Homo sapiens: one gene and its partners. The protein of the gene in region 5 purifies or fractionates together with the protein of the main gene of each other region. This does not show direct contact. Each region holds a gene or a part of one and is shown on either strand. Other genes may lie near its edges.

Region 1 (4,616 bases), on a different chromosome or scaffold from region 5:
TTAGCCAGGATGGTCTCTATCTCCTGACCTCGTGATCCACCCACCTCGGCCTCCCACAGTGCTGCGATTACAGGCGTGAGCCACCGTGCCTGGCCAAGAGTGCTATTCTCTTAGTAGTAAAACAAACACAATTATCTTGAATTTTTAATGTAGAAATTAAAAGCTTACAAAATACATTCTAACAGTCTTTGAATTCTATTGTAATATGAGTTAATGGGTCTACATAGGTATGCTTTAGATGTTTAATATCTAATTACATGAGGTAGATTAAGCAAAAATGCAGATTAAGGTTTACACATAGATGCTTAGAACCACTGACCTTGCAATGAAGTGAGTGATGCCAAATTCAGGTAGTGACTGCCAAGCTTGAATAAATCTCATCTTGGCTTCAATTAGACTCATCTGAGCTACATTCTGATGGGCCTCCAAGATTCTCGCTGTTATCTAAACATGAGTAAACATCACCTTTACCATTGAACATTATTCTCTCATGGGAGAACTGAGACAAAAGATCAAAAGATTGAATTACGCACCCCGTACCCCAAAATCATATTGTAAGAGTTGAAATCAAAATATCTGAAGCTACATTTGGACACTGTAATAATGTAATGTATAAGGATTTTTCAAAATAAGTCTTAATTTCAGTTTTCATATATCAACAAAAAGTACTATTAGGAGTACATAGTTGCCACACTTGAGACATATTCCAAATGCATACACCTAACGGTACTACTATTACAGAACAGCACATTCTAATCCACATATACACGAGTTTTAATTAAATTTAGCACTATGTCTATAATCAGAATGAATACCTGGAATACATGTTTCTAGCAGGAATATTTGTTAGCAGCTTTAAGGTACTTGAAATCACCATAATCATTTCTATTTTAAATTTAAATTTCACTACTGGGGTAAATTCCATGAGGGAAGGTTGTGGCTATGAATTTTTATTTATTCTTTTTCTTTTGTGGTAAATATGGAGAACTTACCAAATCTCTTATATAGCCTGGCTGTAGATGGCAATGCGAGGAAAGAAAAAGGAAGCAGAAAGAAAAAAAAAGGCAATCAGAAAAAATGGCAACGAAGCAAAGAAAAAGTTGCGGTCACCTGCAAACCAAAATTCCAGCCAAAAGTCATGCAAAAAACTACTTTAGGTAGAAACCAAGCAAAGTAAATGCAAGAATGAAAAATGAAAATGAGGAAGCAGCAATTACTTTCCATTTAGAACACTGAGAAACACTCCACATTATTTTAGAATGTTAAATGTTGCTAAAGAACCTAAGGGTAGAAATTTGTAGGGAGAAGATAAAAAGAGCAAATATTTCTTTCCCCCTACATCGTGTACCCAGTTACATCGTGTACCCAGTTCTCACCGGTTAAGGTAAAGCCAATTATTTTAGTAGCAAAATAAAAGTATCCAAAAGCCTTTAAAGTCTTCTCAGATTTAGTCAGATAATATGATCCATGCACTGCTTTTCAGAAATAAGAATTTGAAGGCATAAAATAAGTGCAGTGCCCATCTGTTTCTTTTTTTACACAAGAAAAGCAAACCCCTCAGTTACCATGTGTTTTTTGCATCCTTTTTCCTGGAAGGGAAAACAAAGAGATGCCGTATACTACATGAGGAATTTCGGCTTTATGGCATTAGTCATTTCCATTTAGATTAACATAAATCAACATATAGAATAATTCTTCAAAATTTAAAAATCCAGTTTGAGAGTCATATTTATTTAAAAATACCCACAGCATGTTTAGTTAATATATATATAATTGAAGGGAATTAAAGTAGGTTAAATACAACAGGTTATTTTGATAGACCCAAAAGAAAACTACGAGTCTATGCCCAGGTAGGGAAGAATGTCCTTGTGGCCTGCACATCTTCCTACAGCCTCCAGAACGCAACTGGATACAGCTTAATAATTACTGAGCACTATGTCCAGTGTGACTAGTGTGGTATCTGACACACAGTAGCAACTAAACTTCTGAATGTCACTACTTACTAGGCACCAGGGCAATAACATCATGGTCGCTATTCTCTGGAAACAATTTTTTTTTCTGAGACAGAATTTCACTCTTGTCACCCAGGCTGGAGTGCAATGGCGCCATCTTGGCTCACTGCAACCTCCACCTCCCGGGTACAGGTGATTCTCCTGCCTCAGCCTCCCAAGTAGCTGGCATTATAGGCGTGCACCACCATGCCTGGCTAATTTTTGTATTTTTAGTAGAGATGGGGTTTCACCATGTTGGCCAGGCTGGTCTCAAACTCCTGACCTCAAGTGATCCACCCGCCTCGGCCTCTCAAAGTGCTGGGATTACAGGCGTGAGCCACTGTGCCTGGCCAACAATTTGTAAGTCTATTCCAGCAGAGTGTGGTGGCTCACACCTGTAATCCCAGTGCTTCGGGAGGCCAAGGCAGGCAGATCACTTGAGCTCAAGAGTTTGAGACCAGTCTAAGCAACATAGCGAGACCCCATCTCTACAAAAAATACAAAAATTAGCCTGGAGTGGCAGTGCGTGCCTGTGGTTCTAGTTACTAGGGAGGCTGAGGTGGGAGGATTGCTTGAGCCTGGGAGATGGAGGCTGCAGTGCGCTTGAGCTATGATGGTGCCACTGCACTCCAGCCTGGGAGACAGAGAGACTCTGCCTCAAAGAGAACAAAATACACACCAAAAAATCTAACCTATAGCTCTAGTGAGAGAAAGGAGGGTTAAAAATGTGCATTTGATTAGATGGCAACATGAAAGGCAAGGCCAGAAGGATCTTTAACCACGGACCACACACAAACTGTCCTCCTGTCAGTTAAAGATAAATCTTCAGTTGATAGTTTCTAGTCAAGAACTATCATTTAAAAGGCTTCTGAGAAAACAAATAGTTGACAGTGAAAACAATGTGTGGCAGCTCTCGTTTAAGCTCTTTTATCTCCCTGATACCTTACTGTGAAATGATAAAATTGGTCAGGTTTGAAATTACTTATTGCCTTTGAAGGCAAATAAGTTCACTTTTAGAAACAAGATTCTGTATAAATAATTTTAAAAAACTACGAATGAAAAATGAAATTAGCACTTGCTTTACTTTCTCTTTTTAACTTACAATCTACATTCCATACAGTTCCCCAGGGCAGCATTTCCTCCATTCCTTACTACTCCCACATCATATGACCACGGGATAAACAATTTCTAGGCTTACACAACCTCTGAGACTTAAAGACAAATATTCTGTCATTAAAATTCTGAACATTTAGGTAGAAATAATTTTAGACCCATATAATAAATATTATACTTAAAGTTAAGGAATTAGTAAGTGTTCTGGGCATTTCATTGAGCCTTTTTAGTATGTTTTAAAATTATTCCTTAACAAAGATTAAAGCAAAATTAGATAAAAACAAAATGTTTATTTTAAAGGTCTTCGTCTCCCCACCCCCAAACTAAAGCCTTTTCCTTTTATGGCATGATGTTGGGGGCAGAGAATACCAGGGCCTATACCAAGTGAAATTCCCCTGTAAAGGACTTTTTATGTTGTACCAAAGAACCATTTTCCTAAGTAGCAGCCCTTTTATGGTATTAATTTCCAAAGAAAAGAATTCTAAACAGAGTGAACAAAAGCAAATTTCAATGAAAATTTACCAAACTGTGTAACTATGTGTAAAATTGTGGTTAGGTTCTGACTGAAAATGTTAAGAAAAGACACGGCTAAAAATGTACTCTTGTAAAGTTTCTTTCTAAAGCTGGAAAAGCCAATTTCAACAAGAGCAGGTATTACAGATTTTGTTGAGAAATGCTGGCTGCACTTTATGTCACATTTACTTAATTATATATGGAATAAAATTAAATAAATTAAGGAACACAAAGCATTGAGACCATATTCAATTCCCTAAAATGTCTGAAAGAACACCATGTTAACAGAATGATTTCTGCAATTTGTTTAGAGTAAGTTCTCAACTATTCTGTGTCCTTATCTGTTCTATTAAAATGATAAAGATTTTTTTTTTTAATGACCAATTTAAACTGACTAAAGGTTACTTTATTTTCTACAGATTGAGTATCCATTATCCAAAATTCTTGGGACCAGAAGTATTTTGGGTTTCAGATTTTTTTGGATTTTGGAATATCTGCATTATACTTACCAGTTGAGGATCCCAAATCTGAAATCCAAAATGTGCCAATGAGCATTTGAGAGTCATGTTGGCACTCAAAAAGTTTCAGATTTTGGAGGATTTCAGAGGTTCAGATTAGGGATACTCTAACTGTATTTTATATTCTAACCATCTGATACAAAATTAAGACTAAAAAGTTTTGTTTAAGAGGGGAAAAACAAAGTTATGTACAAAATTATAAAAACAAACCAGCACAGTAGATGAAGTAAAATGAAGTAAGTACCTGCTTGTTCTTATACTTTTTTAGATAGCGGGGAGACACCAAACATTCAGGAGTTATATCAGTCGTGATCTGCTCTGGTATTAACTGAGGATCTGGGTTTAAATGCTGCATCTTCAGAAAGGAAAGAATATTCTGAACTTCTAAGTTGTAAGAACTGTCCGCCATGGTCTTGCCTTTGGAGGCTAATCTGCAGGCTGCCATCCAGTGTGCATACTGTTTTTCCTGGAGAAAAGAAAT
Region 2 (4,422 bases), on a different chromosome or scaffold from region 5:
AAACTGGCTCAGGCAAATTATCAAGAAATACTAAAGCTGGCAGTTAAAAGTTTGATGAGAGAGAGGAATATAGTCTTGAAATGTCTCCTTGCACAATACTTACAAATTTTTCAGTGGAGAAACTTGGCAGACAGATACCATGTTACTAATAATAAAACAAACTTCACCACCACTATAAAGAGAAAACCCAACATCGTCAGCCTCCTGGCATGACGCAGCGAGAACACAGCACCACCTCTGTGGTCCTCCTGTCAAAAACGCACACATCACAGGGACACTTCAGACCAACCAAAACTGAAGCACATTCAGACTACCTGACCGGTACCCTGCAAGACTGTCTCAATCATAAAAGACAGACTGGGAACTGTTTCTGACGGTAGTGAACTCGAGACAAGACAGCCAAAGGCAACTGGTGTCACCCCAGACAAAATTGGACATTGTGACTGCAAAGGACATTACTGGGCCGCTGGAGCGAGCTTGCTGGTTTGAGGGTGACCTGCATCCACGTTTCTGACGCCTATGCTGCGAGCTGTAAAGAGGGCCTCTGTTTCCAGGAAACACCACAGGAGCAAGGGGGTAACGGAACACGTCTGTAACTTACTGTCAAAGGGTTCAGAAAACAATGAGTGACATGCAAGCACACCAGAGGATGCAAATGCAAATGTAGAGAAATGTTCAGTGGAGAATGTGGGCGAAAGAGAAATAGGAGCTCTTCACGCCACAGAGCTTGAAAGTATTCCACAGTGGAGACTCCAGAGACAAATCCACCAAAGGCAGTGTGTGGTCGGTGTTTGTACAGACCAACACACAAAATGAGGTAGACAGGAAGACAGCAGCCTTCACAGTAAAACCGCTTTCACTAGAGAAAATAAGGATGTATTCTAACACTGCCATTTAGCCAAAAGTAAGTTTGTTCTTTCTGCTTCCTAAGAGCAAAAACAGGAATCACACATGTATATATTTTATCAATTTTATTGAAATATTCCAAGGATCCCAACCCCATTTAAAAATAAAAATTGTAAAGCACTCCATTCAATAAAAGCACATAAGTCCCCCTCAATAATTAGTATGACAATTCACGATACAGCTCTTACTCTGGGAGAGTTTATTTTACCCTTTATTCCAAAAGGCACAAAGTCATCTGAGGCCTCAGATATTAACCCCACTGCATGTTAATGACACACCACTGAGGTGCAGCTCAATGTAATTATTAAAGCTTATAACACACTTCCCCAAGAATTTATAGATTCTTTCTATAAATAATAATTTAAAAAATACTGCACCTTAAGACCAATACAGGCTTAACAAAAGACCTGAAATTTCTGCAAGGGCAGTTTTGTTTCTTGATAGAAGTACAACTTTTGAAAGTCTATTCCCAGCAAAAGAAACACTAGACCCAGCTTGGCCAAAGAAACAAAATAAAACAAGTGATTTCTAACACGCTAAAAGAGTACATTTTCATCAGCTCCAAAGAAAGCAGTCCTGGTCATTCAGAAGGCTCCTATGATCCCACCAGTCTGCAGTCATTAGAAATATATGCTTTACAGGCCACAGGCTGCTCTGGATTTGGTTTCAGACACCAGTGACCAGAAGAAGCCAGTTTTGCGTGTGAGGGGTGTGGGCCCCCGCTGCCTTGGGCCTGCTCACCGGGGTGGATGGACCCCCGCCGGGTCACAGCCTGCTGTCACGTCTGGACTGTTGGCCTCTTCTGCATCTGGGCTGTTGGGCTCTCCTGCTCTCTGTCCCTCAGTCACGTCATTGTCTGGCTGTCCGGTGCTGGCTGCACTCTCATTTGTGAGGATAACCCCTTCCTTCTTCTTTTCTCCCAATACCTCCAGCCCCATCATCCTGAGATAATGAAGCCGTTCATTCTTGGGCACAAAAGTTCGAATGGAGGCCTTTCCCCGCCATCCGCATAAGACGATGGGACACTGCAGAGCGTCTGGATTCCTACAAGTGAAAGTGGCTTCATGTAGAACATTAAACATTCCCATAACTAAATCGAATGAGATGTAATATGCAACTGCTTAAAAAAGAAAACCACAGAAAACCCATACCCACAAAACCCCCAAAACTACTGGGAGGACATTTCATCTGGATCCGAGGGGTAGGTTTTCTCAAAGGACTTCCTTCTTCATGTCCTGAGTAAAATTCTCACCCTCGCTTTCGCCCTGCCTCTTTAAGTTCACAATGGAGTAGAGGCCCCAAATCTACAGATTTCACATACACTTTCTACATACTTCCTTCTCAAACTTAACTTACTGTCCCCGCCACCCCGTGTCACCTCACCCCACTAAATGAGAAGCGTTTCTCCACAGGCTCCCTGCAGCTCACCTCAAGTTTCCTAAGTGGACTGAAGCTCCTGAGAGGCTGGGAGACTCTGCCCTTAGCAGGGCGTCAGAGCAGGACCCAGGACCACCGGGAGACTCTGCCCTTAGCAGGGCTGCCAGAGCAGAACCCAGGACCACTCATCCTTTTGATACTCAGTGTTAGCGTGATTTCTTCTCCAGGGACCCCACATGGCAGTCTGAGCCCTGCTGGGCACACAGTGCTCATTTCCGTTCCCAGCATGCAGTGTTACCCACAGTCAAAAACATCCCTGCCTCTCTGAACATGCTCCGAGCCTCCCTACCTTCCAGGCTCCACCTGTCCAGCCAGGAGGCATCGACGCCCCAGCAGAGATGGACGCCACCATTTCCAACCTGCACACGCCCTCTCTCAACTTATCTGATTTCTTTCATACGGGACTCTGACCTAGATTTTAGGCTCCTAACGGCCGTGTTTAATCACCTTTCCATTTTTCCTAATGTAAAGCAGGGGCACAAAGGTGGTTTTAAGAAGTGAGAGGAAAATATAAGAAATTCCCAACTCCCATCTTCTTAAAAAAAAAAAACCATTATTCCTGAAGTTGACCTGTCACCTGTGTATTTCACCAAGTAGAAACAAGTGTTTAAATATGGAAAAGTGAATCCACACCTTAAAATATCCCAATATTTTCTATGTGGGCCACATGGGACTGTTATTTTAAAAACCATTTCTGAGTCTTTGTTCAAACTCTCGTTAAAAACACCCAGAAGCCATCAATCACTAGATGCTCCTGCCCGTTCACCATCCAGACACCATCCGCCTCCAGCAGGTCCCCAGGGTGCTCATGCGCTCGGCCTCGCTGACCTCTCCAGCCCATCCATCTGTTGTTCCCTCACCAAGTTCCTGCCCCTCCCACCTCAGCCCCCACCTGTCCTCTCTCCACATGGCAGCCGGACAGCCTGAACCCTGAGGACATGTGGCCCCTCGGCCTCCCTGCCAACCTCTTACCTATCCCTCCTCCTTCCCTACTTGGCTGGGCCCGCCCCGACCCCCAGCTTGCACCTGCCTCAGGATCTGCGCTTTGGTGGTTCCTTCAAGTTAGCACTGGATCCCTGGTCCAACACTAACTTCCCAAAGAAATCTGTACAGTGGTTCTACCTATTCACTCCCCCAAATCCCAGTCAGCCGTGGACCCCATTCTGTTTCCTCCTCTCAGAAATGGTGTTGCATGTCACCAAGACGGAGCTGTTGCAGGTGAGATCCGAATTCTGCCACTCGTGAGCTGAGGAGCTCTGGGCAAGCCACCTAACTTTCTGTCCCGGCTTCCTCCTCTGGCAAGTGCTGCCAAAACCAGCACCTGCTCCCCCAAGGCCCCCCACAAGGATGCAGCGTGAATACATGCAAGCAGCGTGGAGCAGTGGTCCCGTGGGGACCGTGAGTGCAAGCGTGAGCAAATCCCATGCTCCGGCCCTAGCACTCCTGATGCAGTAACATGTCAGCAACACACATGGCTGAACCAGCCATGAGGACAAAAGAACGGAACCTCACTCAACTGTCCAATCTTCACACTTACTCTGTACAAGACAGAAATTTTCATTGGTTTCTAATGCTTAAAAAATAAGTACTATGCATTTTATTCTCTGTAAGTAAAAATTCACTTAGCCTGAGCTGAGTGTTCTATGAAACAGCATCTTCATGATGACCTACAGGAATATTTTGGTTCTGAAGTTTTCACAAGGCTACTTCTGAGGAACAATCACAAAAGGCCTGAAGAAGGTTCCCACCTTCCCAAGTCACTTTCCTCACCAACGAGAACACTGTAGCTAATGACAAGGCGTGTGTGTCTAAGGGCAGGGCGTGTACTGACTTACGCAGAATCTGGTTCATACTTCAGCACGATGCTTCCCTTTGCTGGAAAAGAAACAGACACACATTTGCCAGGTTTTCCAGGTAGTGGATGCATGCGCTGAGCACATTTCTGCACCTAGTGATGTGTTAAGTATTCTGAAGAAAGAAAACAACAAATAATCTACATTCTTGGCTTCAAGGATCTAGATGGTGAAAAGAGGCCGTCTGGATACATGAACCAAGTCCAAATGACGCAGTAGGGACGAT
Region 3 (2,446 bases), on a different chromosome or scaffold from region 5:
AGTTTCTGAGCAACATCTGATCTTAGAAGGCAAACTCCATTTGTTAATATGACAGATTGTAATTCTGCTTCCTAAGTCTTCATGATTTCTTCCTTCTGTCTAGTTCATTGCTTATTTTCATTCTTTAGTGTGGAATTGTATCTGTGATTCTGCCCAAGTTCAACCAACCTGTTCTCTCTTATCTTTCTCTAGACAGAATGATGTCTGTAGCTGTGTTTGTGTAATTCAGGTGGCTTCTCAAACTAGCCTCTTAATACCCAAATTATTAGTCTTTATATTTAGTTGACAGAGTTTTCACATACCTTCTCATTTGACTTCTCTACTAAAAGGTAGTTTTAGACTGTCCCATTTTATAAGTGAGGAACCTTTGTATATCCTGCCCAAGGGTGCCGTAAGTATGGCAGAGCCAGCACACTAACTCAATTCCTTTGACTCCAGGTCCAGCTTTCCTCCCTATGTTGTTTAGCACAACCCAGAAGGAGACAGCAGTGTCTCCTGAGGGATCCCTTCCTTTCTCTGTGATGCAGTACTGACAGTAATTATTCACTTTGGACACTGCTACCATCATGGCAAATTTAGGCCATTTAGATAAAAGGGAATTAACTAATTATAATAAAAGGGGATATATTATGAAATGTATAAAGCACTTTGTTCCTTTTTTCTGTAGTAATTTTGTGACCTAGTCCTTGGTTACAGTAGTGAGGGTTCAGAAACCTGGGAGCTTTTTGAGTAAATACAAAGCACAACATAAAACTTTTATGTTTGACTCTATTCCTGTTCAAAGCTATTTCTGTTAACTAAGCTTATCTGCGCATTCTAGTTGGGAACTATTACTACAATGTTAGACTGCTCCATGTAAAACTAATAAATGGCAGTAAAAGGTCTCAGAAGCACCAAGGGTTTTGATCAGGTCAGGAGTTAGAAACTTAATGTCATTTGTATTCATTTCTTGACCAATTGCCAAAGTTTATATATTTTTAATTTTTCTAACATACCACATTGTCTGTTGTATTAATACCAGTTCACTTTTTGTTTTCTGCAGAAAAATCCAGAGGAAGACAACTCAGGGAGAACATTGGGTTGGGAGCCAGGGCACTTGCTGCTCACCATCTGCACCGTGCGCAGTATGGAGCAGCTCCTGCCGTTCTTCAATGTGCTCAGTCAAGTCTTCAACAGCAAAGTCACAAGCCGATGTGGAGGACACTCAGGGAGTCCTATCCTCTACTCAAATGCCTTCCCTAATAAGGACATGAAACTGGAGAACCACAAACCATGTTCCAGCAAAGCCAGGCAAAAAATAGAAGAGATGGTAGAAAAAGATTTTCTGGAAGGGATGATAAAAACTTGAGCACCATTGCTGGTTCCATTTAGCTTACATGTAAATGTAATTATTTAAAACACACACACTGCTCTGCGTTGTATAGTTTTTCCTTTTTTGTATGTAACAGAACACATTTCAGATTGTATTTAATTTAAATATTTGTATATAAGAGCAAATGTCTGAATGTGGCCTGAATCAAGTTTAAATATTGTTGGCTCATACTGATTATGGTGCCTAAGAGAGCTATATATATACACATGTAAAGTCCATTGTTTTTATTGTCCTGAGTTGTCTTAAACCTGCAAAATATACACTACCCATTTTTTTTTTCCATTGGTTTCAGACTTGGTTCAATTAAGATTGGTTGGGGATTTTTCTCTTTTCCTTATTAACCATGTTCTGGTATCAGAATGGTGTTCCTTCTCCATCAGAGGCTGGGAAACGTATTATAATTAGTTTTTCTCCCACATACCTTCACCAAGAGCAGTGAAGAATAACTGAAGGCTGGACCATGCATCCTTAAAAGTATTGCATGAGCATCTCCACCTCAGTATGGAAGAGGGATGGACAACCCCCTATTCATACCTCTGAGTTCCTGATGGCATTAGTCATATAGGTAAGTCATCTAATAATCTTTCTTAAGACTCTGCAATGGAAAAACTGGTTGTATAAAGTCTTCTCTGCCCTCTCCATTTGTATCAGCAATGGGGAATGCTGCAAAACATCATCTTGCTCATGTGATGGTGATGGCAAAGATATCACAAGGAGTTGGTAATAAGATTTAATTTTCCAGTAGCCTGCATGAATTGTTCCCCACATAAAACTGTACAGTTAGTGACTGAATTGTATACTTAAGTCCCAGTATTTTACATTAGTGAGACTGAAATTAGAGGTAAATTTCTTTAACAAGTGTAAGGCTTACCTATTTATAAAGAATTATTCTGTTAGTGTTTAAGAAAAACAGATCTAGAGACAATCCAGTAGGCTGCATTGTAAACATTATGATTATAAATCTCTTAGTACTGCCATTATTATTGACAGTTTTGTAAAGACTTGTAAAAAGTCCAGTTTCTCAGGAATATGAAAATTATCTTCAGAAACCTGGTTGGGGCCTTTCTCCAATTC
Region 4 (4,616 bases), on a different chromosome or scaffold from region 5:
TTTCTAGCAAGTCCCAGGTGATGCTGATACTGCTGCTCTGAGGACCACACTTAGAGAGCCACTGCTTTAGAAATATTCCTTGTATACCCTTTGTCAGAAATAGCTAAGGTTTCCAGAAGCAAGAATAGGAATAAAGGCAAGATGTACACAAGTGATATCTGATACTGGGGTTGAGATTATGTATTATATACAATTTTTTGAAAAGTAAGACTACGACTAAGCTATTACATTACATGTGCTGCGGTAGTATTTTGTATGTTGTATAAAACAAAAGCATTAAATAAATTGAAAGTATTAAAGAATAATAGAAAATTATTTATATGTATTAAATCTCACTTATTTTCTTTTCATTGCTTATAAAAGAATATGAGCTGTACAATTTTCCAGCTACTTATACATATTAGACAATAAATAAAAACAAAATATTGAAAGAAGAGAGGACAGAATGTTTATGAATCGCTTGTAATTTTAAAATTAAAAAATTAAATTAAATTTAAAATAGTAATAATAATAATTATTATTATTTTGAGGCAGAGTCTCACTCTGTTGCCAGGCTGGAGTGCAGTGGCGCAATCTTGGCTCACCACAAACTCTGTCTCCCAGGTTCAAGTGATTCTCTTGCCTCAGTCTCCTGAGTAGATGGGACTAGAGGAGTGTGCCACCATGCCCGGGTAATTTTTTTGTATTTTTAGTAGAGATGAGGTTTCACCATGTTGGCTAGGCTGGTCTTGAACTCCTGACCTCATGATCTGCCCTTCTCTGCCTCCCAAAGTGCTGAGATTACAGGTGTGAGCCACCACACCTGGCCAAATTTAAAATTTAAAAATTCTACCTGTGTTTAGTTGTGGTACATGTTGCTTTAACAATATGGAGGTGTTTTTTTTTTCACATTTTCTTTGTGTGAAACAAACATAATATCTTTTTAATGATTGTTTCATTGTGACTGAAGTAGCTGAAATGCACAGTGTGCTCTTTTGAGTTTCCCTATAATTGTTCAAGATTGATTTTTCATTGTTCTTAAAATTAAACTTTTTTTTGGAGAAAGAGAAACAGGTAAAAAAAAGAGAGAAAACTTTAGATAACTGTAACTTTATACTATCTTGGGGGCAATGCTTCATTTCTAAGGGAGTTCAAGCACTGTGCATCAGAGCCAGGAGGTTCCAGACTTGTCACTGTCACGTCAATCTTGTAACTTTCCAACAGGTCCTCCTTCCCAGAAACCAAATCAGATTTTCTACTTGAAGCAGTACCAAGCCTCTGGATAGAGCTTCGAGGGAAGGATTTTGGGGTCATGGGTTTTTTCCAGGGAGGCTCGAAAAAAGCTTCCCTTGCAGTTTGAGTTTGAAGGCTGTAGCTCAGTGGCAGATCAGGACACCTAGGAACATTTCCAAGGAAGTAGCCATTTCTCTCCCAGCCTTGAACCCTGATCTCTGGGTTCTTCCCTCTGAGAATCTCCCCCACCTCAGTTAAACTGCGCATCATAACTGCATGGCTATTTGAGATATTATTTTTAAATAACATGTTTACTTTGTGAAAGCTCTTAGTTAGGGAAACCAGAGGTCAGCATTGCAGTTTGTTTACAGATCTGTGAAATGGCTTTGCCCTGCTACCCCCTTATTTATATCAGATTTCATCTTTCATGCTACCCTCTCTTTTCCAAATTCAGTTTCCTAATGCTCTTGGTTACCCCACTTTGGAGATTACCCCGGCTTGCCTAGGATGCATCTCTCCAACTTTCAATGCCTAACCTTGGCTAGTTAACCATCTTGAAACACATTCATATCAAAGCATTAATGACAGAAAATAGCTTAATGTGGTAACTTCTAGTCACATCTTTGCTTTACATAGTGATTTGAAACTCCAAAGATCTTAAGTAAAGACATGCATTTTGAACAATGAAATGCCGTGGACTGGTAGGGCCAACAAGAAGGAGATGTTTAGCCAGAGCAGCTTCCCGTGGTCCTTTGCATCATAATAGCTAGTCCATCTTTGGTTGATGCAAAAGTTGTACTTAAGAGAAAGCATGGGAACAGGGTTCTCTTTTAAAAGCATACTCCAAATAGCTACCTTAAGGGGAAATGAATGGGAACCCTGGCACTATGGTGGGTTAATCTTGATGTTCTCCACTCATCCCTTACGCCTGTTACCCATGTTAGTCTGTTTCTTACTAATTGGAAATTACTTTTACTTATGATTAAGAAACTGTTATAGTCCTGGACTTGTATGTAGAGGATAGGATTACAGTTCAACAAGTAGCCAAGTAATATATGACCAACTAAGATCCCTGGAATTTGGCTACCTAGGGTTTAATGTGTCTAGCAAACTATTTCCTCTGTAGTGAGAAATAACATGACACCAAACCTTTCAGAATCAGGCCAGGAACTGAAATGGGGGGGAAGTTGAACCAGCTGTCTTTGAAGCTGAACCCCGTCATTAAGGGCTAGATGGCACAGCCATAGAATAGGTTAGGACTGTTCTAGAGAACTAGTGTTTGTTGTATATTAATACCTGTAATTTATAAGCCCATAAAGATTTATGCTTCTTGTATTTTATATGTTTATTTGTACTGTTTTTCCTTCACTTTGACAGTCTCAGCCTATCTCAGATTGGCAGGAAATCAATTGAAGTAAACTTTGTTCAGACTTCATTCAAACCTCTGGGGATACAAATGGTAGTGACTGGTTATCATGGGAAGAGTGAAATTCAGAGGAAATTGAATCAAAACCCTCTAAACTTAGGCATTTTTTAATAGTACTAAAACCTTGGAGTTTTTTAAAAAAAACTTTTAAAATCTTCTGGCTTTGTTCTATTTTATTTTTATTTTTTAGAAAGAGATATGGGAACTTTATGATCACCTTGGATGATTTTATTGTAGTTAGAGATTAAAACATTCTAGCTCATTTCTGTAAATATGGAACTCAGTAACCATGTCTCAGTAGAGATGCTTTTTATTTACAGAGAGTAAATAGAAAGTAATTTCAATTTTCTAAAAATGACAAGTGCTGTCAAAATGTATGACAACCTGTAGTATAAGTATGTACAGATACACTACTTTAAATTTATGTCTTAGATTTTCTTTTCTCGCTAATATTTATTTTTATTGACTTTTCTCAGAAATTATTTTAATCAGTCCTGTATTAAAAGATGCACAATTTCAAATTTCTTCTTATCAGATTAAGACACAAAATAGGTTAAAATATAATTTGCCATTATTGTGTTTAAATGGATCTTAGAAGTGTTAAATTTACATTTGCATACTATTCTGGATACTTCTAGGAATTTTAAATTTGATGTCATAATTCTTCTATCACCTTTGGTTGTCTGCATTTAACATATGACACAGTGTGATATCTGAATGCCTCTCTGAATAGCTCCCAGCTATAGTGACTACTGCCATCTTTAGGATGGATCCACAGATTCTGGATCTAACTTATGTGCAGTTAGAGGGAGTTTAAAGGAGATTTAAATTACCCTGCCAACTCCAATGACTCTTCATCCTTGGAGTTTGGTTAGCTGATTCTGTGCCTTGGTCCTAGTAACTGGGGGTTCTAGCTCCCCTAAAGATCTGAACTCATACCACAAATTGTTTCAAGATCTGTTTCTTTTCCTAAAGGTAAGCCTCTGGCTTGATAATGATTCTGGCGCCCTAGGCTTTCTAGGTCTGTTAATCTTAATTCTTTTGGTCATGCATTCCTTTGAAATTATGATAAAAGTTAGGTTTGTTTCCTTTGAAAGTGCACATATTCTCAGGTGTGTGTGCGTATACACACATACAATTTTGAATACAGTTTCTGGGCTTTCATGAATCCTAAGGCAACCCCCAAAGAACGGGGTCTCTGAATATTGCAGGCTTTAATGCCATGTGTAGTACACCCAAGCAGAAATCAGCCCAGCTGGGGCAGCATCCTTGCCCTTTGGTGCACCAGAATCTTGTCAGCAGTAGTCAGGTAGGGTCCACCCAATACAAATATTTGTCTAAAGCAATACCTGGAGAGGTAATATGATTTACAACTTAATGAGAAAAATAAAATAATTTGCTGAGCGTGAGTGAAGCTACTTTAGAGAATGAGAACAGTAAAGATTTTACTGTGTTGATAAAGACTGGATTGCACTCAGTGAATTACAGAGCAGCAAGGTTCTGATATTTACTTTCAGTTCCTCTTCACTGAGGAACTTTTGAACTTCTACATGCATTGTGGCTAAAAGAATTGTGGCCTGTCTTCTATGGATGATTTTAAGCTCAACCATCAAACATCCATTAAACACCAAGTATATGTCAGGTCCTATGCTGGGTGTTGAGGACAGAAGATGAGTGAGGAGCTCATAATGTTGTACAGGAGAAAGACATATAAGTAAATAATAATGAAAGGGATTGCCACTTTTTAAGTGCAGACTACGTGCTAATGGTTTCACATATATTATTTCACCAAATCTTTAAAACAATCCTAGAGTCATGTTTATTTTTATCCTCATTTTACAAGCGAGGAAACAAAATCATGGACGATGGACCATATGCCATGGTAGAACTAAAGTTCAGACGCGAGCACAGAGAAGACCCAGGTTTTTGGGAGGCCCTCTTTAAAAAAGAATGCACTTTGTACTCATCAGACGGCTAC
Region 5 (3,699 bases):
ATCATGTAAAAGACAGCTGGACTCATTGTGTTTATTGCAGTACTATTCACAATAGCAAAGTCATGGACCCAACCTAAGTATCCATCAATGGGTGACTGAATAAAGAAAATGTTGGCTGGCACAGTGGCTCGTGCCTATAAATCCCAGCATTTTAGGAGTCTGAGGCAGGAGAACTGCTTGAACTTAGGATTTTGAGACCAGCCTGGGCAACATAGCAAGACCCTGTCTCTTAAAAAAAAAAAAGGAAAATGTGGTACATATACACCATGGAATAGTACACAGCCTTAAAAAATGAAATAACGTCCTTTGCAGGAACATGAATGGAGCTGGAGGCCATTATCCTAAGTAAACTAACTCAGACACAGAAAACCAAATACTGCATGTTCTCCGTTATAAGTGGGAACTAAGCAATGGGTACACAGGGGCATGAAGATAGAAACAGACACTGGGGACTCCAAAAGGGGGGCGGGTAGGTGCGGGGCAAAGGCTGGAAAATTGCCTAGTGGGTATAGTGTTCACTCTTTGGGTAATGGGTTCACTAGAAACCCAATCCTCCCCAGTACACAATACACCCGTGTAACAAACATGCACGTGCCCCCTGAATCTAAAGCAAAATAATAGTCAAAAAAAAAAAAAAAAAAAAAGATCTGGAAGCCAGATGATGGAGACCCTGCCTTGGAGACCAAAGCAATGTGAGCCCTTCCCTCCCCTCAACGCCAGCACAGGTCTTTGTCTGTCTCTGGGCATGACTAAGACAGGGCTCAGAGATTCCCTCCACAGCAGGTCTTCCCTCAGACAGACAGCAGTAGGACACGTGGCCCAGGAGATGAAAAGGGAGCCAAAGAATGGGGGCCCAAGATGGGCAACAGTCAGTAATGCAAAGGCCTTCAACACATCATCAGACTAACAGCATTCCCTCAGCACAACCCTTTCAGCCCCAAGCAAGATCTGTGTGTCCAGTTGGGTTGCTATGTCAGAGGAGTGAGGCCCTGACAGCAGGAAGCAGGCTTCCCCTGAGGCCCAAAACCACATCCTAAGCAGCAGCCTGGGAACTCAACCTTGTCCCAGTACTTATTAAACTGTCACATGCAAGGGTGGTCTGTGTCCAGACACAAAGACCTGAACAAGACCCTGCTTGGTGGGCGAAGAAACAGAAGCAGACACACCACACAACACAGGTATCCAACTCCAAATTGTTTAATCTCAATTCCAGAGGTCTAGGCCAGGCCAGGCACCTGGGGCTCTGGGCTGTTCTGCTTCTCTGGGCCCTACACCCAGAACCTGGCCTTGGCTTCTCGCTCCCGGGTCTTTAGATCGTCATCTTGGAGTCCGGTTCCATGTTCTCACCGCTCCTCCATGATGACTCCTTCTGCTCAGCCTCCTCCCTTGCCAGTCTCAGGGAGGATCCTTCACAGCCAATTCATCCTTGGGTCCCCTTCCCAGGGGACGTCAACAGTCTAGGCAGGGACCCTTGCCCCCAACTCAATCCCCATCACCACAGCCAGCAAAGCCTCCGTCAGGGGCCCTGCCTCTTCACCTGCTGCCTCCACAAGCCCCACCAGGGCCAGACCCCGCTTCCTCGGGCACTGCTCTGACCCCAGTGTCCAGCGGGCACAGTGGGCAGCCAGCCGGGGCCGGCCCAGGCGGAACACCTCACCCACTGACTCCGGGCCACCCTGGGGTCCCAGGTGGATGCGGCCCACGGCCTCTTCCAGCTCCTCCTCCAGCCCAGGCAGTAGGAAACGGCCAGCAGCCTCCAGTGCCTCCTCGGCCTCTGAACCCAGCAGGGGCTGGCCTGGTGGGGGCACGGGCCCCAGGGCAGCCCCACACCCCCGACAACCATGCAAATGATGCAGGACAGGCCAGGCTGCACCAGGCGACAGACCTCGCAGGGGCACCAGGTCCATCTGGGCTTCTGCAAAGCTGCCTGACAGCAGGGCCCGGAAGAAAGGGGAGGCGGTGGCTGAGGCCGCTCGCTGGGCAGGGAGCTGGAGGCCTGAGTCCAGCAGGAAGTGCAGGTCGGGAGCTGGGACAGGGGCTGGGCCCAGCAGAGGTTCATAGAGGCAAGGGGAAGGTGAGTCTAGGTCCATGGGGACTGCCTGTGGGACAGCTGGGCTCACAGTGGGAGACACCAGGTCTTGGAGGCAGGAAAGGGAGTCCGCGGCAAAGAAGAGGAAGAGCGGGTGTGGGGCCGGCCGGGTCAGCGCCGCAAGGAGGAGCCGGAGACCACCCTGCTCCAGAAGCAGCCGGCGCCACAGAGAGGGCTTCCTACAGGGAAGAGAGGGCCTTTCAAAAGGTGGGCAACGGGCCTGGGAAACACAGCACTCCTCCCCCAACCCCGCAAGGCACCCACTTCCCACTCACCGGCAGATGAAGGGCAGGGTCAGCGCGCAGGCCACTCGGTCCTCAGGGCTCCCAGAGAGCAGCAGGTGCGTCAGGGCCCCAACCCCAAAGGGCGACTCAGCCTGAACCGTCAGGTTCTGCAGTAGCCTCTCCCCTGTGAGTGGAAAGCTTGTCAGGCTGGGAACTGGGGTCTAAGACAGGTGGGGTGAGTGAGACAGGGCTCTGGGCCCGTGAGATGAAGGAGGGTGAAACCTCTGGGTGAGAAATCAGGGCACTGAAGAGACAGTGCTGGGCTCGGGACGCTGGGAACCTGAGGTCCAGGACAAGGACAGAAGGTGGGACAGTCAGGGTGTAAGTCTGGGCCCCTGAAGTGTGGGCGGCAAGCCACCCAGGCGCCGAGGCAAGAGACGGAGGACACGAGCTGTTCCAGTATAATACAATATAAAACAAGAATAGTTATACCAGATATAGATCTTAGAGATATATGAATATCATTAATCATTAGTTTGTAGTAATTACTCTTTATCCCAATATTGTAATAATCCTCGCTCTATAATCATAACCTGGGAAAAACCAGGCCATACAGAGATAGGAGCTGAGGGGACATAGTGAGGTGTGACCAGAAGACAAGAGTGCGAGCCTTCTGTTATGCCCGGACAGGGCCAGCAGAAGGGCTCCTTGGTCTAGCAGTAACGCCATGAAGCAGCCTGTGGTCAGGGCACAGCAGACAGGGCAGTCCCTGGCAGTGCTGGGGGTGATGGTGAGGCTGGGGTTCACAGGTCAGCGTGCTGGTGGGGAGCAGTCAGGACAGTGCTGAACCAATGGCAGAGCCAGGAAAGAAGCACAGACCAGCCCAGATCCTGGGCGCGGGGCTGCATCTAGAGTTAGGGTATCTGGGTCCCAGGGCTAGGGCAGAGGACACAGCAGAACTCTGCCTGTGGGCCCATGGAGGGACTGGAACGCCCTGCTCCCCACCCCACTCTGGTGACAGGTTGTCTGGAGGACGGGCTGGGGAGGACAGGTGAGTGGGAAGGTGAGGTTCTGGGCCCATGGAAGCCATGGGGGAGGATGGGGACTCACATGGGGGCAAGGAGACGGGTGGGTATGGGAACTCACCCAGCTCTCGGTGCCGGCTGTGGAGAGTGGGCCGGGCACGTGGTGCCGGCCAATCGTCAGGCGCCACCCCCAGCACCAGCCAGGCCCGCAGCAGCGCCGCGCCATAGCTGCGCACGAAGGCCTCGAGGCAGGCAGGGTTGCAGGTGAGGCGTGACAGAATGCGCAGTGCACGTGGGCTGGGCGGGCCCGGTGCGCCGGTCACATAGGTCAGCAGGCCGTACAGCGCCGGGCCGGTCACAA
Region 6 (4,616 bases), on a different chromosome or scaffold from region 5:
CTTGGGAGGCTGAGGCAGTAGAATTACTTGAGCCCAGGAGTTTGAGGCTACAGTGAGCTATGATTGTGCAACTGCACTCCAGCCTGGGTGACAAAGTGAGACCCTGTCTCAAAAAAAAAAAAAAAATACTACTACTACTGATAAAGCAAGTGGAAGTGGAAGTTGGGAACGATGGAGTGGCTAAAGAAAACCTCAGAGATGATATTTGAACAGAGTTGGTACAGTCACATGACTCTTGATGAGGATAGGTTCTGAGAAATGCATCATTAGGTCATTTCATTGTTGTGTGAACATCCTAAAGTGTGCTTACATACACCCAGATGGAGCAGCTCAGTACACACCTGGGCTAGATGGTACAGTCTACCGTCCTAGGCTACAAACCTGTGTGGCATGTTACTGTACTGAATACTGTAGGCACAGTGTTGTAACACAATGGTGTGTGTCTAAACATTGAAAAGGTACAGTAAAAATACAGTATAAAACATAAAAAATGGTACATCTGAATAGGGCACTTAGTGTAGCTGGAGCTGGCACAACTGGAAGTTGTTCTGGGTGAATAACTGAGTAGTGAGTAAATGTGAAGGCCTAATACGTCATTGTACACTACTGTAAACTATAAACACATTACACTTGGGCTACAGTAAATTTATAAAAACATTTTTCTTCAATAATAAATTAACCTTAGCTTACTGTAACTGTTTTACTTGATAAACTTTTAAAATCCTTTATAATAACACTTAGCTTAAAACACAAACTTATTTTGCTTTACAAAAAATCTTTCTTCATTTTATTTTATTTTAACTTTTATATTCAGGGTTACATGTACAGGTTTGTTACATAGGTCAACTTGTCTCATGGGGGTTTATTGTACAGATTATTTCATCACTGAGGTATTAAGCCTAGTAATTAGTTATTTTTAGTTATTTAGTTATATTAGTTATTTTTCCTGATCCTCTCCCTCCTCCCACCCTCTACCCTCCAATAGGCCAGTGTGTGTTGTTCCCCCGTGTCCATGTGTTCTCATAATTTAGCTCCTACTTATAAGTGAGAACATGCTGTATTTGGTTTTCTGTTCCTGTGTTAGTTTGCTATGGATAATGGCCTCCAGCTCCATCTATGTCCCCGCAAAGGACTTGATCTCATTCTTTTTTTATGGCTGTATAGTATTCCATGGTGTATATGTACCACATTTTCTTTATCCAGTCTATCATTGATGGGCATTTAGGTTTATTCCATGTCTTTGCTAAAAATACTCTCTTTATACCCCTATTTGATAGCTTTTTTCTATTTTTACTTTTTTTTTTTTTTCTTTTCAGTTGGAGCCTTGCTCTGTTGCTCAGGCTGGAGTGCAGTGGCGTCGTCTTGGCTCACTGCAACCTCCGCCTCCCGGGTTCAAGTGATTCTCCTGCCTCAGCCTCCTGAATAGTTGAGATTACAGGCACACGCCACCACACCGGCTAATTTCTGTATTTTTAGTAGAGACAGGGTTTCGCCATGTTGGCCAGGCTGGTCTCAAACTCCTGATCTCAGGTGATCCACCTGCCTTGGCCTCCCAAAGTGCTGGGATTACAGGTGTGAGCCACCATGCCCAGCCATCTATTTTTACTTTTTAAACTTTTTTGTTAAAAACTAAGACACAAATATACCATAAGCCTGGGCCTGTACCAAGTCAGGATCATCAGTATCACTGTCTTCCACCTTAACATCTTGTCCCAGTGGAAGGTCTTCAGGGGCAATAACAGACATGCAGCTGTCATCTCATCTCCTATGATAACATTGCCTTCAGGAATTTCTCTTGAAGCACCTGCCTAAGGCTAGTTTACAATTAACTTAAAAAAATGTAGAAGGAATATACTCTAAAACAATGATAAAAAGTAGGTTTGTTTACACCAACATTACCACAAATGTGATTAATCTGTTACACTATGATGTTTTGACAGCCATGACATCACTAGGTGATAGGAATTTTTCAGCTCCATTATAATCTTATGGGACCACTCTCATATATGTGGTTTGTCATTGACTGAAATATCACTATGCATTGCCTGACTATATTTGATCAGAGATCCAAATGGGCCATGCAGAGATTTGGGAAAAGAAGATTCTAGACAAAAGGAATGGGAAAGGCCGAGCCCCTGAGGCAGGGCACATTTGGGAAGCTAAGGGTGTGGACTTAGGAGGAGGAGGGTGGCAGGGTTAGGGTGGAGAAGTAATTTCTTTCCTGTTGAAATAACTGCTAAGTTAAAAGAAAAGTTGCAAGAGGAATTCAAAGGAATCCTGAATACCCTACGTCCAGGTTTGCCAGTTTTTACCACTTGCCACATTTTCTTTATCATCCTTTGTATTTACATTTTTTTGAATCACTTGAGTCAGTTGTAGGCATTGTGCCTCTTTATCTCTAAACATTTCAGTTCGTATTTTTCTAAAAGATATTCTGTTATATAATCACATTAAAATCCTCAAAATCAGGAAATTTAACATTGTGGATAATCCTGTTAAATAACCCTCTGCAGCCTATGTCCTCTCCTCTTGAATCTGGATTGGGCTTGTGCCTGCTTTGACGGACGGAATATTGAGGAAGTGGCCTTCAGAAAGTTTGGCAGCTTCTACTTCCTCTCGGAGCCCGTGGTTGTCATGTAAGAAGTGCAGGATCACCCTCTGCTGGAGAGAGAGACCACACACAAAGGCTGGAGGATGAGACTGCAGAGGGAGACCTCATTAGTGGGCACCAAAGTGCCAGACATCCAACACCCAGCTGCCACCTTAAGCACAGGCATGTGTCCCCAAGAGTGAGCATCTGATTCATGAGATACAGTAAAATTGTTGCTTTATGCTACCAAGTTTTTTGCTACGCAACAAGACTTCCCCTGCTTCATACACATTGTGCCAGTCACAAGAGGATACCTCCCTCTGGGCATATAGACTACAAAAAGGCACCTTGCTGGGGCACAGGTGGCCAGGGCACTCACACAGGGAGGAGAGGCCCTGCAGGATGTCCACCCCACCGGCCCCTCATCCTGGTGCGCTCTGTACAGCACAGGGCTGCACAGCTTCTGCATCCGGGGGCTGGAGGTGGTTGTGGAAGGATGCCCACAGGCAGCTCGCTAGTCTGCACGTGTTCTTTCTAACTGCTGGGCTTTTGTGTTGCCCTGCCTTTGCCCAGTGTCCTATGGCCCTAGAGGCCTGGGCCGTCACTGCTAATGTCGTGGCAATGCCAGGCAATGACCACCCCAAGGCCATGCTGGGGAGAGGTAGAACATTTTGATATTTGAACAGCTTTTGTCCCCCATCCTTTCCTTGCCCTTCCAGCCAGCTCTTCAGTGCCCTAGGCAACAGCCACTCATTTCTCACATCCCCAGCTCCAAACAGCCTTCAGTGAAGCTGGGTGTGTGTCTCATTTTGTTGCTATAGTTTGTTACTGGAACCTCTCTCACTCTCATTTCTTCAGGGTTGATTTTTCAGGAAGGAGTTAGCAGCCCATCCTAGTTTGTCACATAGGTGGATGGGCAGCTATTTCTTTTCCTTCAGGCTATATCCTTCAGCATACACCTCTAATAGATTTTAACAATCTGTAGGTTGTTATTCTTGCCCCTAGACTGTGAACTTACTCAGGGCAGGGTGGGTCCTGATTCGTTTCTGTGCCCTAACCATCAGTCAACTAGTATTTCCTGATGTAAGCGTCATGAATCAGCCCAGTCATTTCTCTGGTCACCTTCAGTCACCAGAGTTTGCCCTGAATAGAACCTCTTGATCTTTGAACACAGTAGCTGTGGTCCATCACCCAGATGAATGACCCCAGCACCAAAACTGTCCATTGATATACTGGAAAATTACCATTAATGGACTTAAGCGGGCCATTAACTTATTTTTTCTGCATAATTGAGGCGTAAAGAATTATTCAATTGTTCATGATTGAATGTCGGGTCTATAGGTAGATCAAGATACTGTCTAAGGTCAAACATTTGAGAGCTGGTCTGTGTTTGCATGTGATTGACAGGCAAAGGCTTAAGGAAAATGGAGAGGAGAATTGAAGGGGAGGAGGGTCAAGGAAACGAGGAAAGAGAGTAGATAGAAGTGAACAAGCGGAGGTGGAAAAAGCTAGATGAAAAATGAAGGAGCGCTAAGAAGAGGAGAAAACAAACACCAGGGCAGGAGAGGAGCTAGGAGAGCAGGAAGAGAGGATGGGGGGATGGAGGGCTTATGAGGTTATCTTTACTCTAGTTCCTCCATCTTACTGTGTTTTTTATGACCCCGACAGTTTTGAAGAGTGCAAGTGGCTCTTTTGTGGTATAGCCTTCAATTTGCATCTGTTGAGGATCTGATTAAATTTTAGTGTGCATTTTGGCAGGAACTGCTTAGCAGTGTTAGGTCCTCGGCGCTGTCAAGACAGGAAGCGCATGGCATGGTCTGTCCGTCCCTGTGTGGGTAGGTGTCCGCCAGGTCTCTTCTGGGAACCTGCCTCTGTGGGAAAGTGGTGACACTGTAATGTCCTGCTGCTCACCAGGCTTCCACCCACTTGTTTCAGCATCTCCCGATAATTCCTGCCAGAGTCCATAATTATTGTGATGGCTATAAAACAGTGATTTTCTAACCCTGTATTGCATCTATGTTTATTC
Region 7 (4,128 bases), on a different chromosome or scaffold from region 5:
GCCTTGGCCTCCCAAAGTGCTGGCATTACAGGCTTGAGCCGCCACCATGCCCAGCCGAAACATCTTCTCAACAGACTTGTTTAGGCAACCCTGCTCAGAGACCTGAAACATCTCCCATGTGTCCCTCCTTCTCTTCCCAGGATACCCTTTAATAGGCAGCCTCCTCCTGTGCTGGAGGCATTACTTCTCTTTCCTCTGTAGCCATCTTCCTGTCCTCTTCCTCCTCAAGTCTACTCATGGAACTTCCCTCAGTACCTCCCAGCTGGGACATCCAGAGCCTTCCTTGGCTTGAAACTTAACTCCTTTTCTTATCCCTAATTAGACTGAGTTCTCCAAGAACTGGACCTGTGTCATCCTCGTTGGTTACTCTCTCAGAGGTGAGGTAATAGAACCAACCAGAATTCATCATTCACTCATTCATTCATTCATCAATACCTCCTTTATGCCAGGCACTGGACTAGCAGACCCCTACTCTTAAGAAATGCAGAGATAAAGGCCTGCATGGTGGCTCATGCCTATAATCCCAGTACTTCTGGATGCTGAGGTAGGTGGATCGCTTGAGCCCAGAAGTTTGAGACCAGCCTGGGCAACATGGTGAGACCCTGTCTTGACAAAAAATACACAAATTAGCCTGGTGTGATGGTGCAAACCTGTACTCCCAGCTACTGGGCCTAGACCTGAGCCCAGGAGGTCTAGGCTGCGGTTAGCCATGATCGTGCCACTGCACTCCATCCTGGACAACAGAGATATTGGTGGGTTTGTTTTGTTTTTGAAACAGGGTGTCACTCTGTCACCCAGGCTGGAGTGCAGTAGTGCAGCCTTGACCTCCTGGGCTCAGGTGATCTTCCCACCTCAGCCCCCCCACCACCAAATAGCTGGGACCACAGGTGCGCACCACCATGTCTGGCTAATTCTTGCGTTTTTTGTTGAGACTGGTTCTCACCATGTTGCCCAGGCTGGTCTTGGACTCCTGGGCTCAAGTGATCCTCCCGCCTTGGCCTCCCAAAGTGCTGGGATTACAGGCGTGAACCACAGCGCCCAAAGATTATTATCAGAAGAGAAAAACATCTGAATAAATTAATCTAACATGATAAGTATGATTATAGCCCATGCATAAAATCTATGGGAGCAGCAGAGGAAGCAAAGGATTCTAGCTATGAACTAGATCTTAAGGAATAAATAGGCGGAACACAGGGAAAGGCAGTCCAACAGAGGGAAACATGCCACTCACTTGGGATTAAGTGGAAGGACAAAGAAAATTTTAAAAGATCACAAAGGTATCTTCACTATCCTTTTTGGTATAGGTCACCCGAGGAGGAAAAGAATCTTCAAGCTAAATAAAATACAGAGTACTGATTCCAAAACTCAAGAATAGAGAATCCCTCAAGTGAGACAGCAATCATAATTTGCCTTAGTTACAGTCTCCCTTAATCCTTCTCCCTTCTCTCCCCTCTCTCTATTCTCCTTAGAAACACAATACAAAATCAAACAGAAAGAGTAAGAGAAAGCTACACACACAGTAAGAAAATAAACTCAGAGAGCTTGAAAAAAGGCAGAGCTTAGCCAATCTGTCTTTGACTCAGCACTTAATGTCATTCCCGGTTGTTATCCTATTTCCTTATATTGCATATTCTGCAATGATTCAGGGAAGGGCAGAGCTTATATGAATGAGCAGTTAAGTAAATTAAAACACATGCGTGCACACACACACACACCCCTCCAAATACAGATTTGAAAACACTGGCCAACCACAGGAAAGCCATCAGTTCCTCCAAGGGGGTGTACAAGGAACAAGTGTTGGTTGTTAAGCATGGAAAATAAACCAGTAAGTGAATGACATCATCTCAGAGTTATGAACTGAGGACTGTGGGCGATGGGAGGGATTTTGTACATACACATGCTGTCTCAAAAAAATAAAAAACCGAAAAACAGTTTTCCTGTCCTTCTCAGGTCTGGAACTAGTTTTCCTTTAACAGAAGACTGGACATGGACTTTGCTCTTTGAATCCTAATAGAAAGGAAGGGAGTGGTGGAAGGAGCAGGTTTTCCTTTCATTCAGAAAATCAGATAGAACCTTTCTGCCCCACCCATCCTTCCAGCTCCAGTCTCTCTCTCTAAAACAGTGTCTTTGAAAATGTGGCCCAGGGACTACCTTCCTCACAATCACCTGGGGTGAGGGAAGAAGCACAGCAGTGCTTGTTATAAATGCAGATTATGGGCCCCAAACCAGACCTTCTGGAACTGAAGCTCTGGGACAGGTCCCAGGAATCTGCATCTCAAACAAGCTTCCCGGGTAATTTCACCCCCTGTTTGACAGGCATTGTCTGAAAGCGGCATCTCAAAGCCTAAGAGTCCCCCAGATCCCTTGAGGCGTCTTGTCCGGTGGCATCGCTGGGCAAGTTTGGTAGCCAGCAGTAACTGCTGAATTTCAAGGAGCCATTAGGATCACCTACATTCTCCCGACTCCGGAACCCCAGAACTTGGAAATAGGAAGAAAGTTCTTTGTAAGCTTTAAAGCGCAGCACATTAGTCAGGGGACAATGCGCCGCTCACAGTTCCACTCGGGCCCACGGCGCCCGGGCTGAGGATTCCCGTCCCACTGAGCAGTCCCACCGCCCTCGCCCCTCAGGCTTCACGCCCGACACACGCCCCAATCTCTCCCGGGACAGCCAAGCCCCCGACCAGCGGCACCACTGCGAGACCCTTCTCTGACCCTCTCCGCACTCACAGGCTGCCCAGCCTGGGCCCGCTGCTCTCCTCTCCATGTTCCTCCTTCTTCCAGGTTTGAATCTCCCGCCGTTGGGCCACCGCCCCTCACCGTCGGCACCGCCAGACAGGACACTTCCCGTCCACACCGCTGAGAATCCTGGGATTTGTAGTTCCCGGCCGCGGAGCCGGGCCGCCCAGGTGCTGGGAGAAGAGGCGCCCCAGGCCGGGGCAGTACCGCTCCCCTTACAGCAGTTCCTCGTCTTGTTCCTTCCAGGCTCCTTTTCTGCTTAACAGTCTTATTCTAGCTGCTGCCCCTGCCATTGCCTCTGTCATCTCCACCTAGTATTCCCATTAACCCCTACTCTGCTTCCTATGTGTTCCCGAGTCCGGCTAACTTGTGGGCCTACTTGGCGCTATGCACTAAGCTAGGTGATGCGAATGCAGAGATGTATGAGGGCAGTGAATGCTCTAAAAGAGTTTGCTGTTCTGGCACAAGTGATAGACATATAGTCAAATAAATTAGAGGTCGGTGATGCACAGAGGGAGGGGGTCATTGCTGTGAATAAGAGCAGCGAATGACAGGGAAGACGTCCTGGTGGAAGTGACAGCTGATTTGGGTTGAGAAGTGAAAGAGAATTCATCAGATTGAAGAAGAGAGGCAGTGCAGTCAGTGGAGACAGCATGTGCAAGAACGAGGAGGTGAGTTCGGGAACTTAAACTTGGTTCAGTTTTAGAGGAGAACAAAGCTCAGCCAGGGAGAGGCCAGAAGGGATCCTGGAGGCACAGGGCCAGGTCCAGTAGCACCTTGGGCACCATGCTAGGGCCCTGGCATGGGGTCTGGTGAGCAGTCACCAGCCAAGGAACACTTTAGACATAGGTCAGAGCCAGATTTGTCCTTTAAAAAGAGCCATCTTATAGCAGGGGATTGGAAGGGGGTGAGGCTAGGGGCAGAGACCAGTTGGAAGGCTACTGCAGTAGCACAGAAGAGAGATAATAAGAGCCTGAACTAGGCCAGGCACGGTGGTTCACACCTGTAATCCCAGCACTTTGGGAGGCGGAGGCGGGCAGATTAACTGAGGTCAGGAGTTCAAGACCAGACAGGCCAACATGGTGAAACCCCATCTCTAGTAAAAATACAAATATTAGCCAGGCGTGGTGGGGTATGCCTGTAATCCCAGGTACTCCGGAGGCTGAGGCAGGAGAATCGCTTGAACCCAGGAGGCAGAGGTTGCAGTGAGCTGAGACTGTGCCACTGCACTCCAGCCTGGGCGACAGAGTGAGACGCCGTCTCAAAAAAAAAAAAAAAAAAAAAAAAAAGAGCCTGAACTAATAAAAAATAATTATGACACCAACAACTATGCTGAAAAAATATTATCTGATAGGTTTCCCCATCTTGTATTTCTCCTTTTACCCTTTCCCC

What was found.
Region 1: the proteins of ARMC5 (region 5) and FERMT2 purify together in Homo sapiens (affinity purification with mass spectrometry, with the first as the bait; one study listed by BioGRID). This does not show direct contact.
Region 2: the proteins of ARMC5 (region 5) and NSUN2 purify together in Homo sapiens (affinity purification with mass spectrometry, with the first as the bait; one study listed by BioGRID). This does not show direct contact.
Region 3: the proteins of ARMC5 (region 5) and PGM3 purify together in Homo sapiens (affinity purification with mass spectrometry, with the first as the bait; one study listed by BioGRID). This does not show direct contact.
Region 4: the proteins of ARMC5 (region 5) and CA1 purify together in Homo sapiens (affinity purification with mass spectrometry, with the first as the bait; one study listed by BioGRID). This does not show direct contact.
Region 6: the proteins of ARMC5 (region 5) and NCAPG2 purify together in Homo sapiens (affinity purification with mass spectrometry; one large-scale study listed by BioGRID and IntAct). This does not show direct contact.
Region 7: the proteins of ARMC5 (region 5) and IQGAP3 purify together in Homo sapiens (affinity purification with mass spectrometry; one large-scale study listed by BioGRID and IntAct). This does not show direct contact.

What each region holds. Positions count from the first base shown.
Region 1 is NC_000014.9:52,860,022-52,864,637, forward strand, and holds part of FERMT2 (fermitin family homolog 2), read right to left. Parts: intron 4,602-4,616; coding exon 4,380-4,601; intron 1,590-4,379; coding exon of another isoform or gene 1,566-1,589; intron 1,014-1,565; coding exon of another isoform or gene 993-1,013; intron 445-992; coding exon 320-444; intron 1-319. UniProt on the Homo sapiens protein: Scaffolding protein that enhances integrin activation mediated by TLN1 and/or TLN2, but activates integrins only weakly by itself. Binds to membranes enriched in phosphoinositides.
Region 2 is NC_000005.10:6,598,283-6,602,704, forward strand, and holds the end of NSUN2 (RNA cytosine C(5)-methyltransferase NSUN2), read right to left. Parts: intron 4,219-4,422; coding exon 4,179-4,218; intron 1,951-4,178; coding exon 1,644-1,950; 3' UTR 957-1,643; downstream 1-956. UniProt on the Homo sapiens protein: RNA cytosine C(5)-methyltransferase that methylates cytosine to 5-methylcytosine (m5C) in various RNAs, such as tRNAs, mRNAs and some long non-coding RNAs (lncRNAs).
Region 3 is NC_000006.12:83,166,820-83,169,265, forward strand, and holds part of PGM3 (phosphoacetylglucosamine mutase), read right to left. Parts: coding exon 2,415-2,446; 3' UTR 1,349-2,414; coding exon of another isoform or gene 1,043-1,348; 3' UTR 1-1,042. Other genes in the region: protein DOP1A, read left to right, coding at 1,043-1,348. UniProt on the Homo sapiens protein: Catalyzes the conversion of GlcNAc-6-P into GlcNAc-1-P during the synthesis of uridine diphosphate/UDP-GlcNAc, a sugar nucleotide critical to multiple glycosylation pathways including protein N- and O-glycosylation.
Region 4 is NC_000008.11:85,367,660-85,372,275, forward strand, and holds part of CA1 (carbonic anhydrase 1), read right to left. Parts: exon of another isoform or gene 4,482-4,616; intron 1-4,481. UniProt on the Homo sapiens protein: Catalyzes the reversible hydration of carbon dioxide. Can hydrate cyanamide to urea.
Region 5 is NC_000016.10:31,464,648-31,468,346, reverse strand, and holds the end of ARMC5 (armadillo repeat-containing protein 5), read right to left. Parts: coding exon 3,460-3,699; coding exon of another isoform or gene 3,146-3,459; exon of another isoform or gene 2,498-3,145; coding exon 2,365-2,497; exon of another isoform or gene 2,287-2,364; coding exon of another isoform or gene 2,269-2,286; coding exon 1,458-2,268; 3' UTR 1,182-1,457; downstream 1-1,181.
Region 6 is NC_000007.14:158,694,298-158,698,913, reverse strand, and holds part of NCAPG2 (condensin-2 complex subunit G2), read left to right. Parts: intron 1-4,616. UniProt on the Homo sapiens protein: Regulatory subunit of the condensin-2 complex, a complex which establishes mitotic chromosome architecture and is involved in physical rigidity of the chromatid axis.
Region 7 is NC_000001.11:156,569,766-156,573,893, forward strand, and holds the start of IQGAP3 (ras GTPase-activating-like protein IQGAP3), read right to left. Parts: upstream 2,801-4,128; 5' UTR 2,765-2,800; coding exon 2,728-2,764; coding exon of another isoform or gene 2,713-2,727; intron 1-2,712.